Linked DNA regions of Homo sapiens: all the other regions are linked to region 3. The links come from fine-mapping of genetic effects on gene expression. A gene starts in region 3. Each other region holds a variant in brackets. All regions are shown on one strand. Distances are from middle to middle.

Region 1 (5,000 bases), 39 kb before region 3:
GAGGCCATGGACTTCCATGGGGAAGTCACCGTATCCTCTGGCTCCAGTGCTGGGGGTTGGGCGGGGGCCCCTTGGGCGGGCTCAGTGGCCACCCGGTGTAGGGCCAGCGTGGGTGGGACACTGCGGAGGGAGGATGCTCACCCTGGCAGGCGGAGGAGCTCTGCTGTGGCTCCCCTGGGAATGGCAGAGGTTCAAGGGCAAGCTGCGGGGGCTGGGGTGGAGGTGCTCTTCTCGCTGTGGCCTTGACAAAGCCTCCAGTTTGATACAACCAAGTCGGATGGGCAGTTTAAGAAGACAGCCAGTAACAGCAAGCTGAGGACCTACCTGCCCGACTTCCGGTTCACACCCTTCAAGCAGGGTGAGCCCTGACCCCACAGCCCTCCACTTGGTGGAGGCCTGCCCCAGCCCCTCCCTCATGCTCGCTACCAGGGCAGAGGTGAGGTGCCCCCTCAGAGCCTGTACTGCCCTGGAGGTGGGACACCAAAGCTCTGAGGGGTGACTTCCCTGTCCCTGGGCCTCCTCCCCCCACTTCCTCCCATGCGGCCCCGACCCTCCCTGTCCATGGCCCTCACCTGCCTGCCTCTGCAGCGGTGAAGGAGACCTGTGCTTGGTTCACTGACAACTACGAGCAGGCCCGGAAGTGAAGCTGGAAGACAGGATCAGGTGCCAGCGGACCATCGGCTGGCAGAGCCCAGCGGCCACCACCCGTCAACCCTGCCAGGAGCTGAGGGCACCACCCAGCAACCTGGGCCTGCATTCCATCCGCTCTGCAGCCCCAAGCATCTTTCCAGTGGGGCCCCCATTCACGTTGGTCCTCAGGGAAACCAGGGTCCCGGGCAGGCCCGGCGCTTTGCTCCCCACACCAGCCCCCTGCGCGTGTCCACTCTGATCCTGCATCCCACTCCCTGGGAGCCAATAAAGTGCATTTTCACAGGCCTGGCCTTGGCAGCTCTGTGCTGAGCCGTCCCCCACACCCAGGGACTGCCCCCTAGCCTGGCCAGTCCCAGGACCCACTATCCCCCTGGCTTACTGTTCAGCCCCCAAGAGCTGGTGACTCCCTGGGGTGGAAAGGCCGCAGAGGCTGGAGATGGGAAGGCACACGTGGGCAGGCAGCAGGCAGGCAGCAGTGAGACTGGTGTGGACTGTCAGCTGGACAAGGATGTGCAGGGCAGGGCCAGTCCCAGCCCCTCCACATGTGGCCACCTGCAGGCCTGAGTAACTTGAGCTCACCCGGACCTCCCTGCCTCAGCCTGAGGGCTCTGGGGAAGCTGGTCTAGTGGGCCAGAAACGTCTAGTGAGCCAGCCGAGCTGAGCCCATGGATGGATATGAGGGGAGGCTGATGATTGGGTGGCTCGGGCTTCCCCTGGCCTGGCCCCTCCTCTCTGTGGCTCTCAGGCTTGGGCGTGGGTCCCCCACCTGGCCTTATCCCATGGAGAGGGACAGGTGCCTGCTGGACAGGTCAGCTCCAGCCACCAGAGGTGGGGTGTCATTGCTCGCCGCCCCCGTCCATTCTCAGAGGGGAGACAGCAAAGTCCAGAATGGTTCCCGGGCCAGTGCCTCAGCCAGGCAGGGTGGCGCTGGGGTATGGACCAGGAGCACTGGGCTCCAGGCCCCGGCTTGCCCGTCGCCCCCTTTCTCAGTGCCTCTCACAGAGGGAGCCCCTATGCCAGAACCCTCTGGTCCACTGCATCCAGGACCCAGATGCCCTCCCTGGCTCCTGGCCCAACTCTGGGCCCACGTCCTCAGGGTCCCTCTCCTGGGCGCCCTGTGCCGTCTTCACGCACATGATGCCTTTTGGCTGCAGGTAGGACCTGCTGCTTCACTTCTTCGTTCATTCCGGCAGCGGTGATGTGTCCTCCCTGTCCCGGCACTGAGTCCAGACCGGTGTGTCCTGCACCCAGCCAACCGCTCACCTCATCTCTCACTGTCCCTTTGTGTCCAGCAAGCCGAGGTGTCCTCCAGGCCTCCCCTGAGACTGGCCCCCTCTTGGGTCAAGGCCTCCCTACCTTTTAGGCCTCAGCTGAGGTGGCCCAGCCTCCAAAACACCTTCCCTGATGGCACCTTCACAGCGCCTCTCGGAGCATCCACCCTGCCCTGCTGGGATTGTTTGTCTGGAAACCTCTGGGAGCCCCGCCTCAACCCCTAACCCTCCCGCTGACACCCCAGGACCTCGAGCTCCAGGAGACGGGTTGGCCTCGTTCACAGTGTATCCCCTGGCCCCAGCCCTTTGTGGATAAAGGCTCTGCCCATGTGGGGGTTCAGGAAAGGCCTCCTGGAGAGGGTGGCGCCTATGTGGCTGCTTGGATCCACCAGGTGAACAGTGGGAAGAAGCCCAGCCAAGAGCAGAGAGGTGCCCTGGACACAAGCCTTGGCTGGCTGGGTGTCCACGTCAGCTGAGGGCTCCCAGCTGATGCTCAGAAGCCCAGCCCGGCATGGGACGGAGAAGCTGAACGGGGCTGGGCCCCTGGGCCTCCTTTTACCCACTGTGGCCCTGGGCACTCAGCCAGCAATCCTCCTTCACCTCGCCTCAGTCCACTTGTTTATGATGAGCTTTGTCCTTATGTATGATGGCATGGCACTGGATGCCTCTGGCCCCTCTCACCTCCCCACAGCCTTGGTCCTGAGCCATCACTGGCCCAGGGGGCCTGGGAGAAAATCCAGGGAGTCTGTGGGAAGGGGCTGGGAGGATCCGAGGTGGCAGGAGATACAGCTGCTGACGCTGTGTGCTGGTGCAAAGTGTCCACCACCCACGTTTCTCGGCTGCAGTGGCCGAAGCAGCCTCCTGGTGGCTTTCTGTCCCTTTCCACCTCATTTGCTTCAGAGCCTT[G/T]ACACACTGGCTGTCCTGCGTGTGTGCTGACTGTAGTCTGTCTACACTGCCACCAAGCAGGGCTGCAGGGTGGGGTCCAGCCTGTCCCATCTGCTGCCGTGGGGTGATCTTGCCCAGGCCCAGAGCAGGGCCCAGAGGCTGCAGCTGCACAGTGAATGTTGAATCAATGAGAGGATTTCATTACTGAAGAGCTTAGAAAATGTCAAAGGCTTGGGCCGGCACGGTGGCTCACGCCTGTAATCCCAGCACTTTGGGAGGCCGAGGCAGGTGGATCACGAGGTCAGGAGATTGAGACCATCCTGGCTAACAAGGTGAAACCCCATCTCTACTAAAAATACAAAAAAATAAGCCGGGCGTGGTGGCGGTCGCCTATAGTCCCAGCTACTTGGGAGGCTGAGGCAGGAGAATGGCGTGAACCCGGGAGACGGAGCTTGCAGCGAGCCCAGATGGCGCCACTGCACTCCAGCCTGGGCGACAGAGCGAGACTCCGTCTCAAAAAAAAGAAAAAAGAAAATGTCAAAGGCTTCAAAAGAAAATAACATATGTAACATGCAGCTTTAGATTGGATGATGAAAAAACCGCACTCAGATCTTCAAGCCTTGTTTTCCTTGTGTCATTAAAAGTGACGAGTACCCCCTCCCCGACTGTCCCCTCCGTCGGTCTCAGGCCCCTGGCCCTGGCCTGCTCTCCGTGACCTGGGTCTCCGCCCCTAGTGCTTCCCCGCAGCTCCACCGTCTGTGGTCGGCGGGGCCTCAGTGACCGCACGCTCTGGACCAGCCCCGCAACCCGCTTCGCTACCCCTCCCCTCCGGAAAACCAACATGTGCTCCTCGCACGCGCGACCGGGACCCCTCCCCGCTCCTCCGGCCTCTCCGAGCGCGAGTACCCCGCCGGCCCCGCCCCTTACGGCCCCGCCCCCAGTTTCTCTCAGCCAATGGGCAGTGAGGGGCGGCATAGCCCTTTCGGGCCAATAAGCAGCGAGAGGCGGGGTTCCCGCGCCTTGCGAACTTGTAGAGTGCGGACAAAAAGCCGGCCGGAGTGTGCCGTCCCAGTAACCAATCGGCGAGGGTGGGGACGGGGAGGCGAGTCCTATTGGAGGGCGGGGGTGGGGCCTAGATCTGTGGGCGGGGCGCGGCCTGTGGATGGGCGGTGAGCGCAGCGGCGTCCGAGGCAACAAGATGGCAGCTGCGGAGCCGTCTCCGCGGCGCGTGGGCTTCGTGGGCGCGGGCCGCATGGCGGGGGCCATCGCGCAGGGCCTCATCAGAGCAGGTGGGGCGGCGCGGGGCTAGGCCTGCGGTCTGGAGTGGGAGCAGCCCCGTGGGAGGTGTCCTGCCGCGAGAGTGGGGCCGGGGGCGCGGGCCCAGCCAACCGGGTCTCCGCTCCGCTGGGCGCAGCCGGGGCCACGCCTGTTTGCTCTTACTTTTTTGACGTGGCTGCGGGAAGATTTGAGTCACACGTGGCTAGGTGCCGCTTCCGTGGCCGGCTTCCTGGCCGCGTGGCCTTGGCCAGGCTCACCTCTTCCAGCCTCTGATTTTCTCTTTGCGCGCCAGCCCCTCTCATGGGGAGCAGCAGGGCTTCTCCCCCAGACACCTTGGCTCTAGGGACACCTGGGCCAGACTATCCATCCTGTGCCAGCAGCACCCCCACGTTGTGACAGCCAAAAATGCCTCCAGACACTGCCGAATGTCCCCTGGGTGGGGGGAGGAGACAGGCAAAATCATCCCCTGTTGAGAAACACTGCTTTATACCCGGAATATTTATGCTGACCATATACTCCTCCAGGCATTTAGAAGCCTCTCTGCAGATTGTGGATAGGGAGAGCTGGGTGACTTTTGACTCTCTGCCTTCAGCCATACTTCAGGGTCCAGAAGAGTCAAGATCAATCGGGAAATAGCTTACTATGAGTCTCAGGAGTCTTCCCTGTGAAACCTGGCAGTACCGCATGCCTCCCAGAGCTGTACAGGTTAAATGAGACATAAATGTCTAGTGTTGAGCTTAGTACTGGTGTGTTTGGCTGCCACTGTCATGATTAATTGCTGTGTTCAGGTTGTGGTGTACACTTGTGCCTTCCTGTTCGACCTTACCAAAATCTAACCCAATCTTTCCACCCCGTACCCGACAAAAGCAGATAATTTCTACCAAGTAGGCATTTAGCCTTTTCTTAGACATTCCA
Region 2 (6,030 bases), 31 kb before region 3:
AACCTTGAGGCCTGCGTGGTTGCTCCCCAGGCCCACTGGGAGCTCTGCTTGTCCCCGGGACTTCACTGCCTTGGGGATCTTTGAGGCCAGCCCCTTTGCAGACCGTTGGGCTCAGGCCTTGGTTCTGGCCACCCACGGCTACTGCTCTGGGCATTGTTCCTGAAGGTCCTGAGCCCCCAGGCTTTGACACCTATCCCCCCCAACCACCATGCCGCGGCTACAGGTGTGTGCATTCTCCGAGGCCCTGGCTGAAGGAGCCGTCAAGATGGGCATGCCCAGCAGCCTGGCCCACCGCATCGCTGCCCAGACCCTGCTGGTGAGTGAGGGTGGCCCCTGGGGAACATCGGGAAGGCCCAGGCCTGTACCTCTTCCAGTGCGCAGGGAAACAGCAGGCTCGAGAAGCTGGGGCCAAGGTTGGGGGATGCAACGAGGGCAGGCCGCACAGTGGGGACCGCACCACCTCCCCCCGTCACCAGGCCCTAACGCTCTCCTCAGGGGACGGCCAAGATGCTGCTGCACGAGGGCCAACACCCAGCCCAGCTGCGCTCAGACGTGTGCACCCCGGGTGGCACCACCATCTATGGACTCCACGCCCTGGAGCAGGGCGGGCTGCGAGCAGCCACCATGAGCGCCGTGGAGGCTGCCACCTGCCGGGCCAAGGAGCTCAGCAGAAAGTAGGCTGGGCTCTGGCCATCCTTTCCTGCCTCTGTGCCCCTGCCTCTCCCTGTGTCCCTTCCCCTGAGGACTGCGGCTCCCTCCCTCCTGCATGAGGGTCTCCTACTGCTCCTTCTCCCCTTGCACAGGGAAATGCAGGGGGCAGGACTTGGGAGGTTCCAGCAGGCGGGGGAGCCCCGACCAGTGGGGACACTCCTCCCTCCCCAGTGAGCAGAAGGCACCGTGGTGGTGGCTCTGCCCCTTGCTGCAGTGAGCCCACCTTGCTGCAACATTGGTTCTGAGGGGCCCAAGAGATGGCGTCTTGGTCATTTGCCCGCATGGTTGGGCAGTTGGTTGAGGCCATGAACAGAACTTACGGTAACAGGCACGGCTGGCCCAATGCCTGGTCTGGAGCTGGAGCTTGCCTTTGGCTTTCCAGGTGGCTCCGTGCAGCTACAGCCAGGCCGGCTGCCTCATCTCAGCTCTAGGGGGCACGAGCCATATGGGGTCTGCACAAGAGACCCTCTCCCCTGCAGTAAAGCCAGGGGCCCTGGCCTGATGGGGCCCCCATGGGGAGCTGGAGCCTGCCCTGCAGCCTGGAGAAGAGGGTGGCTGTGGTGGGCGTGCTCATCCCCTGCTAAGGAGCAGGAGCTGCTGGGCCAGGTCTGCGGCAGTGCTGGGGTGGCACCAGGTGGGCAGTGGTAGGTGGGGTGGCTTGAGGTCTGGGAGGGTGGCCCTGGCCAGCCAGGACACATGCAGACCCCTGGCTTTAGTCTGGATACAGGCTCCCTCTTTCCTCCCAATCCTAAGCTCCTGACAAGTGGCCAGGTGGCTCTGGGCCCTCCTGCCCCGTGCCTAGGTCAGGGGTCCTGGAATACCCCGTAGCTCTGGCACCACCACACTGGCCTCTGATGGCAAGACTTGGCCCCTCCACCTGTCCCTAACGGACGGCAGGTCAGGAAAGCCAGGACTCAGGGGAGAAGCAAACCCCCAGGATTGAAGGCTAGGGTTCTAGGGCCTTTGGGTGGGGAGGGCCCGGGCCGGACAGCCTCAGCTCCGTCCCCTGCCCCACAAGATTCACCTGGGCCTCCAGTCCCACGCTGGCCCCAACTGCTGCAGCTCTCGGCTTCCGCCCAACAGCCTCTGGAGGTGAGGCGGGAGCATGCCCTCAGCGAGGCTGGGCGGCGGGTCCTGCTGTGCCATCTCCCTGTGCGCCTGAGCAGATCAATCCACCAGTGCAAAACAGGGCTAACGGCACCTGCAGGACAGCAGCACGCTCCATCCCTCATGCTCAGCTGCCTCTGCGGCCACGGACTTCTGCCCTTCATCTGCTCTCTCTTACTCTCCTGAGCCTAGCCCGTCCGTAAGCTCCCTCCCCTGCCTGGTTCCCAGGGCAGGCTGACTCAGTTGACTGCTTGGTCCAAGCCTGGCCCTGGCACTTGTCAGGGTCAGCCTAAGGAGATGGGAATAAAGAGGCCAGAGAGCACCAAGTGAGCTCATGTTTCACCAGAGGTGGATAAAACCAAGTTCTGGGCTGGGCCCAGTGGCTCACATCTGTAATTCCAGCACTTTGGGAGGCCGAGGCGGGCAGATCACAAAGTCAGGAGTTTGAGACCAACCTGACCAACATGGAGAAACCCCATCTCTACTAAAAATACAAAATTAGCTGGATGTGGTGGTGCGTGCCTGTAATCCCAGCTACTTGGGAGGCTGAGGCAGGAGAATTGCTTGAATCCAGGAGGCGGAGATTGCAGAGAGCCAAGATCATGCCACTGCACTCCAGCCTGGGTGACAGCAAGACTCTGTCTTGGAAAAAAAAAAAAAGAAGGTCCAATGCCTGCCCCATAAGTTGAGGCCTGGAACCTTGGTCAAGCACAGGTGTCAGCCGAAGGGGGTGCTGGCACTGTGGACAGCAGAGGTCTCCCCATGCCTGCTACAGGCCTCTACATCACCTGGGGGCTTTGTAGGGCATGGAATTGCAGTTTCCCCTGCACGCTGTCACCCCAGGGGACTGTATGCCAAGCCTGGGCAGGCCTGGGAGCCTGGGGTCTGGTGCAGGCGGCCCCCTGAAGGAAGGTGGACAGCCCTTCTGACGGCCACCTGCATTCACACCAAGCCCATCTGCAAGGAGAAATCATTGACTTTGCACCAACACCTGTCTCCCCCTGGGACCTCTGACAAGCCCTGGGCACTAGGTGAGCTCAGCTCGGGAGGTGGAGATCCCAAGCCAGCCACTCCTGGCCCAGCTGGTGAGGGCCTGTGACAAAGACACGGGCTCAGTTCTCGGCACGGCAGGGAGCGTTGTGGTGAGCCAGGCCTCCCCTGTGCCTTCTACTTCCAGGTGAAAACTGTTCTTCAAGACAGAAAACGATGGATATGATTACGGTATCTTTGATCAATGTTCCACTTTTATGCCCTATGCCCCAACTGTTAATCTAGGGGGTATTCCTGATCCAAGCGTTGGATCAAGAGTTTAAAAATAAGACTTCAAAACAGGGATGCTCATGAAGTGGACATGTCCAGCCTTTATTAGATAAAGCCACTGGGCCCATCTGACCAGGCGAGCTCAGCTGTAAACAAGCTCGCCAGTTAGAGGAAGGGCCCTCAACAGAGCATGACCC[C/T]ACAAGCCTAGGGACTCCGACATGCTGTTGGGGCTGCTCCCCATGGGTGTCTCAACTAGGTAGGTAAGGGGTTGGGGTCTCTGCAGGACCCCCCCGTCTGGGGGTGCTCCCCTTCCTTTCCTACCACAGTGTGATGTTTCATCCGCAGCCCAGTGGACATCGAGGGGGTCCCCCAAGCCTGCAGGTCCTTGGGCCAAGGCAGTGGCCTCGTCCCCCTGAAAACGCGGGTCGGGTGGTTTCAACAAAACCTGCACTCATCTTTCCCTCCTCAGCGCCTTCCCTTCTCCAGCCCCCACAAGCCCAGGAACTCTGACAATGATGCTGACACGGGGGTCACTAACTGGAAGAGCAGTGAACAGGAGCTGGGGGCTCTTGGGGGCCATCTGAGCTGAGGACAGCTGGCTGTACCTCCGAGGCCACAGGCACCCCCACCCACCCCTGCGCCTGCAGGGAATGTGCAGAATCTGCCAGAGCGGAGGCCAGAGCCCGCAGGCAGCCACGGCTGTTAGAGGAAGCAGATGCAGCCTCACCCCAGCCCACGTCTGTCACCACAGCCAGGGCCTGGCAGGCGATGGCACCCGCGCAGCTTTGGGAAAGAACACTTGGCCTCCCAAAGGGTTCTGCCACCCCTGGGGGCCGCTACAGCCACCAACCCTGGGGTCTTTCCATCACTTCAGACACTGAGCAGAACCCAGAGAGGGTTAGTGAGCTGCAGGTAGGGCTGGGACGGGGCCCCAGGTTCCAGCCCAGGGTCTCAGGGATCCATGGCTGGCACTGCCCACAGGGCCAGGCATGGGCAGAGCAGCCTTCTCAGCAGCGGGGCCCAGCGGCCAAGCCTCTGTCACACAGCACCCTGTGCCAGCATGCCCCGTGCTAGGGAGAAGATGCTTTTTAAGCCCTCTTTAGGGGGTATTTCCCGTCTAGTAAGTGCCAGCAGGCAGACCCACTCTTGACAGGCTCCTAATGTCCCCACCAGCGTGCACCTGCACTTTTTTTTTTTTTTTTTTGAGACAGAGTCTCGCTCTGTCGCGCAGACTGGAGCGCGGTGTTGTGATCTTGGCTCACTGCAATCTCTGCCTTCTGGCTTCAAGCATTTCTCGTGCCTCAGCCTCCTGAGTAGCTAGGGTTACAGGCACCTGCCACCACGCCCAGCTAATTTTTGTATTTTTAGTAGAGACGGGGTTTTCACCATGTTGGCCAGGCTGGTCTCGAACTCCCAATCTCAGGTGATCCACCCGCCTCAGCCTCCCAAAGTGCTGGGATGACAGGTGTGAGCCAACGTGCCTGGCCTCTTTTATCTTATAGCAAAAATTAGTGCTGCCTTGTTTATAGAAAGTGGCCATTGAGGGACTGGGGGACAGGCCACAGCCACCCCGATGAGAGGAGCGGGCCTGCCCTCACCGACACCAGCCTCCTGGGACCCGGGCCAACAAAAGGGCTGAGATGGGAAGAAAGGTTGGAAATGAAAGCCTCGCCAAAGACGCAGCGGCAATGAGTAGTTGGGCTGAAGGGCAGCGCCACGGGCCGCCCAGACTACAGACAAGGCCTGGCTATGCAGCCCTCACTGGCACCGCGGCCGTGAAGTCAGCTTCTCCTCAGAGCCCTGGAGGCAGGCCTGGCAGAGCAGAGGTGGTGTCCCCGCCTTGGGGGCCTGTGCCCCTGGGAAGGTGCTGGCCCAAATGTCTCAGGCTTTCTGCAGCCCATCCCCAGCAGTTCAGGCCAGAGGCTCTTCCTGCAGGTGGCGGTGGCCTGATGGGCTCAGCAGGCATGCCTGGAGCTGCTGCCCTGAGCTCTGCTCAGGGAGTCTGTTTCTTCTTCCCCAAATTTCCACGGCCTCCCTGAGCTCTCAGATTTTGAGATATAGATATATACATATATATGTATATATTTCTTCACTTGCGGGCAGTTCCAAGGAACTGTTTGTTCCTGGACCTGTATAAAGGTCACTTTTGGGGGACACCCTCCAGCTGCCCCACTGCCAAGCTGGTGCACAGCCCTTCCCTTCCCCGTGCAGGCCTCCAGCCTACCCCTGCACTCCACAACTCTGGGTTTTCAAGGTTCCCTCTCCTAGGAGGACACTGGGGGCAGATGGGGACGAGGGGTCAACACCTGGAGGCAAGCAGGCCAGCTCCCTGCCCCTCACACCAGCTCGGGCAGCATCTCTGCAAAGGCAGTTCCCACCCTACCTGAGGAGGCATGGGCATCCCTGGCCCCAGTCCAACCAGAAGGACTGTAGGTCTAGACCTGGCCAGAGCAGAACAGAACCAGGGTTTGACAGGCCCTGGGGCCCTTTCCTCCTTTCAAAGTAGGCCTCCCAGGAGCAGCTTGTCAGCCACATCCTTGGCAGTCCCAGGAGAGGCAGAAAAGTCTGAGGGTGGGGAGGAGAGCCCACAGAGGGTGGCACTGCGTATTGCCCTGGGGGCTAATGCCAGGGCCTGCTTCCAGGTAAGTCAGGTGGCTCCAGGCCCTGGGACTGGACAGAATGGTCTGTGGCTGATGAGGAAGCAGGGGAAACTCTCCTGCCGTTGGCCAAGTCACCAGGGCCCAAAGCCAGGCAGCTGCCAATCCCACGGAATAAGAGATCTGTTCAGTTTTCTTAGGGAAAACTAAAAATCCAAGGAAACGGAACTCTACACCTCCCTGCTGCACCCAGAACCTAATACAGGGCTCCACCCCTCCCACTCCACAGTGATGCTCCAGTACCTGGGGCCTCTGACCTCCAGAGAAACCGCAGGGCGGCCCGAGACCAGCCCAC
Region 3 (5,000 bases):
GCAGGCCCTGGTGAACAGTCTGTGTGCGGGGCAGTCCCCCTGAGACTCGGAGCGGGGCTGACTGGAAACAACACGAATCACTCACTTTTCCCCACAGCTTGTCCTGTGTTGTTTGTGTCGTTTGTTCACCCAGCCCACGGGCTGCGCCTCCCGGGCTGCGGCTGGGCTGGAGTCGGGAATCTGAGCTCGAGGTAGCAGGAAGATTTGCATCCCAGTGAAAGCACAGGCCCTGCCGGCGTGGGAGACAGCCCTGTGCTGAAGCCCGAAGGGCAGTGAGGAGTTCCCCGGCTTTGGGTAGGCTGTGGGGAGTCAGATCCCACACTAGAACTACAAAGCCACAGGCAGGGAGGGCTTTGGTGTCTGCCTTGGAGTTGAGGGAGTTGCTGCAGACCTTTCCTTGCTAGAGGCAGGCTGGGGACAGGACAGGGTTGGGGGTAGTGCCAGGTAAGAGGGTCCAGCCGTGGCCCTGGGCTCCCACGCCTGCCTAGGCACTGCCCCCCAGGCTCAGGGTCAGTGAAGACGTCTCAAACTCCCCAAGTCAAAAGGGAGTGCTCAGGTGTCTCCTGCCACTGCTGCTGCCAACCCAGCACCACCCTGGCATCTGGCGTCAGGGACACAGCTCCTGACCCAGCAGCCCACGGAAGGAGAGGAAGAATGGGGAAGAAGTTGAAGCTCCAGGAGATGACTCAGCCCCAGACACCTGGCCAGAGTGGCACTGCACGTGGCTGTGCTGGGCTGGCCCTGCCTCTGCACCAGCAAGTTCCTGATCTCAGGGTTCCGCCAGTTTGGGCAACGTGAGCTTCAAGAGGAACTGCTTGGGGGAGAGGTTCTAGGCTTGGCAGGAAGTGGAGGCTGGGGGCCTGGGCCTCTCTTGTCGAAGCAGCCTGAGGTGGCACAGACAGGCAAGGGTGTGGGGGGAATGCTGACCGCCTGGGGCACTTCCGTCTGCCCAGGCATTCCACCAGACCAGCTCACCTGGCTCCCCGGGCTTCAGGGTGGGCAGCACCACTGTGTGGTTGGCTGAGGGTGGAGGGTGGGGACTTGGAGCAGAGGCCCAGTCCAGCCAGCCCCGGGGAGTACGAGCTAGGAGAGAGATACAGACTCACACACATTGGACAGAACACACCACACCCCAGGCACCCCCAGGGCACCCGCGCACTCCGAGGGGCCCAGCCAGAGTGGCTGTATTCTTCCGTTCTTGCACTGCTGTAAAGAAATACCTGAGACTGGGTAATTTCTAAGGAAGAGAGGTTTAATTGGCCTGTGGTTCTGCAGGTACAGGAAGCATGGCTGGGGAGGCTTCAGGAAACTTACCATCTTGGTGGAAGCGGAAGCGGGCAGGTCTTACATGGCCGGAGGAAGGGGTGGGGCGGTGCCACGCACTTCCAGACAACCAGATCTTGAGAAGTCTTATCATGGGAACAGCACCAAAGGGGGAAGTTGCCCCCAGGATCCAATCACTTCCCACCAGGCCCCACCTCCAGCACTGGGGATTACGTTTCAACATGAGATTTGGCCAAGGACCCAGGACCCAGAGGGGCCTGCACAAGCTCTGGAGGGGCCACCGCTCCTCTGGTGTCTTCACTGCCCCCTCCACACCTCCGGGCTGCCCCAAGCTCACCCAGTCATGCCTGTTGCAAGGTGTCTGACAGAGCCAGCGTGCAGGGGGCGGAGCCAGCGTGCAGGGGGCGGGGCCAGCCCCTAGCCCCAGGCCCAGTGGGGAGCTGACTGCTGCTTGGGGGCTGAATCAGGCCTCGACTCAGGGTGGGGCCCAGACTCCTGGACCCTGCGAGGACCTCCTCAGAGCTGTCCACAACTGCCCTGAGCTCCCTGGTCAACAGGGGCTGGTAGTCAGGGTGGGGGCCCTTCTCCCCCTTTCTTCGTGGATCTGCCAGCTCTTGGGGATCCTGTTCTCAGGGCCCTGGTGGGTAGAGCCACACCACAGGCACTCAGGCTGCAGGTGGCCACTCCCCTCCAGCAGCCCAGGCAGGAGGGCCCCTCAAAGGCCCATTGTAGGCACGTCCGTGTGGCTCCCCAGCCCCCGCAAGCTCACGCTAGCGCACGCCACCACGCCCGTCCGTGGTCCCGCCCGGGGCGGCTTCTAGGTCAGTCCTGGGCACAACTTCGCAGGAGGAGCAGCGGCAGGTGCTGCAGGCAAGGGCCGCCATGGCTGGGGGTGTGTGGGGCCGGAGCCGGGCCCGGGAGGCTCCCGTGGGGGCTCTAACCCTGACAGCACTGACTGAAGGAATCCGGGCCAGGCAGGGGCAGCCCCAGGGACCCCCTTCCGCAGGCCCTCAGCCCAAGTCCTGGGAGGTCAAACCTGAGGCTGAGCCACAGACCCAGGCACTCACCGCCCCCTCTGAGGCAGAGCCTGGACGTGGGGCCACCGTCCCTGAAGCTGGCAGCGAGCCCTGCTCCCTCAACAGTGCCCTGGAACCAGCCCCTGAGGGGCCCCACCAGGTGACGGGGGAGGGAAGGGATGTTGTGCGAACCGGCCTGGGGGTCCTGTGGATGGTAGGTGGAAGGCGGGGTGGCAGGGGGGCGGTGCTGGCCCCGGGGGAGGTCAGCGTGAAACAGGCTGGTGAGCAACAGAGGAGCAAGGGATTTTGTAGGAAGCCAGGTGGGAGGCCGAGGGACCAGGAGGAGAGCTAGGAGAGGTTTGGGCACTTCAGACGCCCCACCCATCCTGCCCTAGGTTCCCCAGAGTTCCTGGGAGGAGGGAGTTCTTGCCGACCTCGCGTTGTACACGGCTGCCTGCCTGGAGGAGGCTGGCTTTGCAGGGACCCAGGCGACAGTGCTCACCCTGTCCTCAGCCCTGGAGGCCCGGGGCGAGCGGTTGGAGGACCAGGTCAGCCTTCACCCACTTCATGCCCTACAGAATCCTGCCGGTTCGGGCACCAAGGTGGTGGGAGGGGCCTGGAGAGCGCAGCCTGACCCTGCCATCTTCAGGCTGCTCCTGCCAGGCGGGATCAGGGTGGGGGTGGAGGTGGGGTGCAGGCCAGAGGGGAATGGACGGTGGAGGAGGCCTGACTGCTGAAGTCTGCCCCCTTCCCCACCAGGTGCATGCTCTGGTGCGTGGGCTGCTGGCGCAGGTGCCCAGCCTAGCGGAGGGGAGGCCCTGGAGGGCGGCCCTGCGAGTGCTGAGCGCACTGGCCCTGGAGCATGCGCGGGACGTGGTGTGTGCGCTGCTACCCCGCTCTCTGCCCGCCGATCGGTAACCCAACCGTCCTGGCCCTGCGGTCCCCACGCGGCTTCCTTCCCTCTTCCCGCTTGGCGGTGGAGTCTGGCCCCAGAAGAGGGAGCTGAAAAGGGGCAGGGCCTCCTTATTCCAGCCCCGCGATGACTCATGCCCCGTATCCATTCCCGCTCCCCTCATTTTTAGCTCCGCAAACTCCCCCCACACTCCTGCCACAGAGTTTCTGATGCTGGGCTCCTCTCTTGGAGCCACCTTCTATCTTCGGGTGGCCTCCCCTGGAGACCGTCCTGGGGTTGGCTCCGGAGTGGGGTGAATGAGGCTGGGGGGCTAACGTGCCTGGACACCCCTGGCTCTTTGGTTAATTGGCCCCAGAAGTTATCTTTGGTTTTATTCTCTGTGGCAATTTTTTTCTTTTTAATAATGCCAGGTTTGTTTCACTGTCGCTGACCCAACGGGACTCCCAGTGGGTCCCCACCCTGCAGCTCAGCTTGAGATAGGCTATGTTGTGGTCTGCACAATTAACCCTTCATTTGTTTCTCTGAGATTTGGGGATGGGGGGAGATGGGAGGGGTTTCCTGCCCCTCCCCTGCTGGAGTCCTACTGGCTGCCTCCACCCTGGCTGGGGACTCCCTACATTCCCTGGACACCCACCCATCTCTTGTCTCACACCAGCCCCCTCCAAACCCTCAGGGTAGCAGCCGAGCTCTGGCGCAGCCTAAGCCGTAACCAGCGTGTAAATGGGCAGGTGCTGGTGCAACTGCTGTGGGCGCTGAAGGGTGCTTCGGGGCCGGAGCCCCAGGCACTGGCGGTAGGTGGCTCCAGCCATTACCAGGGGGTGGGGGCGGGGGTGGGGGGTGGCGAGGAGCGGGGAGGATGGGCATAGGGAGTTTGCACCTAGGTAACTGCTCCTGGAATGTCCCATGCGTGTCTGAGGCTGTCCCCATCCTGTTGACAGCACGCCTGTCCCTCTGCTGCCCAGTGCAGCTCCAGGCGTGCCCCAGGCCTGAGTGGGCCACTTGCTCCACAGGCCACACGTGCTCTTGGGGAGATGCTGGCTGTTTCGGGCTGCGTGGGAGCCACGAGGGGCTTCTACCCACATCTGCTGCTTGCGCTGGTCACACAGCTGCACAAGCTGGCCCGCAGCCCGTGCTCCCCCGACATGCCCAAGATTTGGGTTCTGTCCCACCGAGGGCCACCACATAGCCATGCCAGGTGAGAGGCAACACCAGGTTACGTGGGGCGGGCCAGCATGCTGTCACCCTCTCAGCTCCCACTGCCCACCTGCTCACTGTCCCCACCACCAGCTGTGCTGTGGAGGCCTTGAAGGCGCTGCTCACCGGGGATGGAGGCCGCATGGTGGTCACGTGCATGGAGCAGGCAGGAGGCTGGAGGAGGCTGGTGGGAGCCCACACCCACCTGGAGGGCGTCCTGCTGCTGGCCAGGTGAGGAGGGTGAGGAGGGGCCCCAGGGTGTCACACCAGGAAGAGAGTCGTTGCTGGCCAGGTGCTGGGCAGGGGGACAGGGAAAAGGCAGGGGCATGAGGGTGGTGTTGGGATGGGGTCTTCTCGAGGAGAAAGGCCGCCAAACGGAGCGAGAGCTCCCATTTCCACCCACCCCAGTGCTATGGTGGCACATGCCGACCACCACCTGCGAGGCCTCTTCGCAGACTTGCTCCCTCGGCTTCGCAGCGCGGACGACCCGCAGCGTCTCACGGCTATGGCCTTCTTCACAGGGGTGAGCCTGCTTCCCGGATGGGTGGTGAAGGGTGACCCTGGACTTGATCCCTGAATCGCAGCGGCCTGCA

The links.
Region 1: its variant is fine-mapped to the expression of MROH6 in spleen (GTEx, PIP 0.99).
Region 2: its variant is fine-mapped to the expression of MROH6 in whole blood (TOPMed, PIP above 0.99).

Annotation. Positions count from the first base shown.
Region 1 is chr8:143,608,554-143,613,553 of GRCh38, reverse strand. PYCR3 (pyrroline-5-carboxylate reductase 3) reads left to right here and starts at 3,979. Exons shown (of 6, transcript NM_023078.6): 1 at 3,979-4,096. The coding sequence starts at 4,006. GFUS (GDP-L-fucose synthase) reads left to right here. Exons shown (of 11, transcript NM_003313.4): 9 at 1-30; 10 at 259-358; 11 at 589-936. The coding sequence ends at 644. RefSeq lists an enhancer at 2,372-2,871. The variant G/T (reference allele first, on the strand shown) is at 2,829.
Region 2 is chr8:143,600,348-143,606,377 of GRCh38, reverse strand. TIGD5 (tigger transposable element derived 5) reads right to left here. Exons shown (of 1, transcript NM_032862.5): 1 at 3,154-6,030. PYCR3 (pyrroline-5-carboxylate reductase 3) reads left to right here. Exons shown (of 6, transcript NM_023078.6): 5 at 224-316; 6 at 496-3,168. The coding sequence ends at 678. Among named protein-coding and RNA genes, the nearest start is that of TIGD5, 5.5 kb to the right of the region's middle. The variant C/T (reference allele first, on the strand shown) is at 3,276.
Region 3 is chr8:143,569,881-143,574,880 of GRCh38, reverse strand. MROH6 (maestro heat like repeat family member 6) reads left to right here and starts at 2,109. Exons shown (of 14, transcript NM_001100878.2): 1 at 2,109-2,460; 2 at 2,696-2,848; 3 at 3,060-3,214; 4 at 3,887-4,004; 5 at 4,224-4,408; 6 at 4,501-4,638; 7 at 4,816-4,930. The coding sequence starts at 2,167. NAPRT (nicotinate phosphoribosyltransferase) reads left to right here. Exons shown (of 13, transcript NM_145201.6): 13 at 1-96. The coding sequence ends at 43. RefSeq lists an enhancer at 2,751-3,600.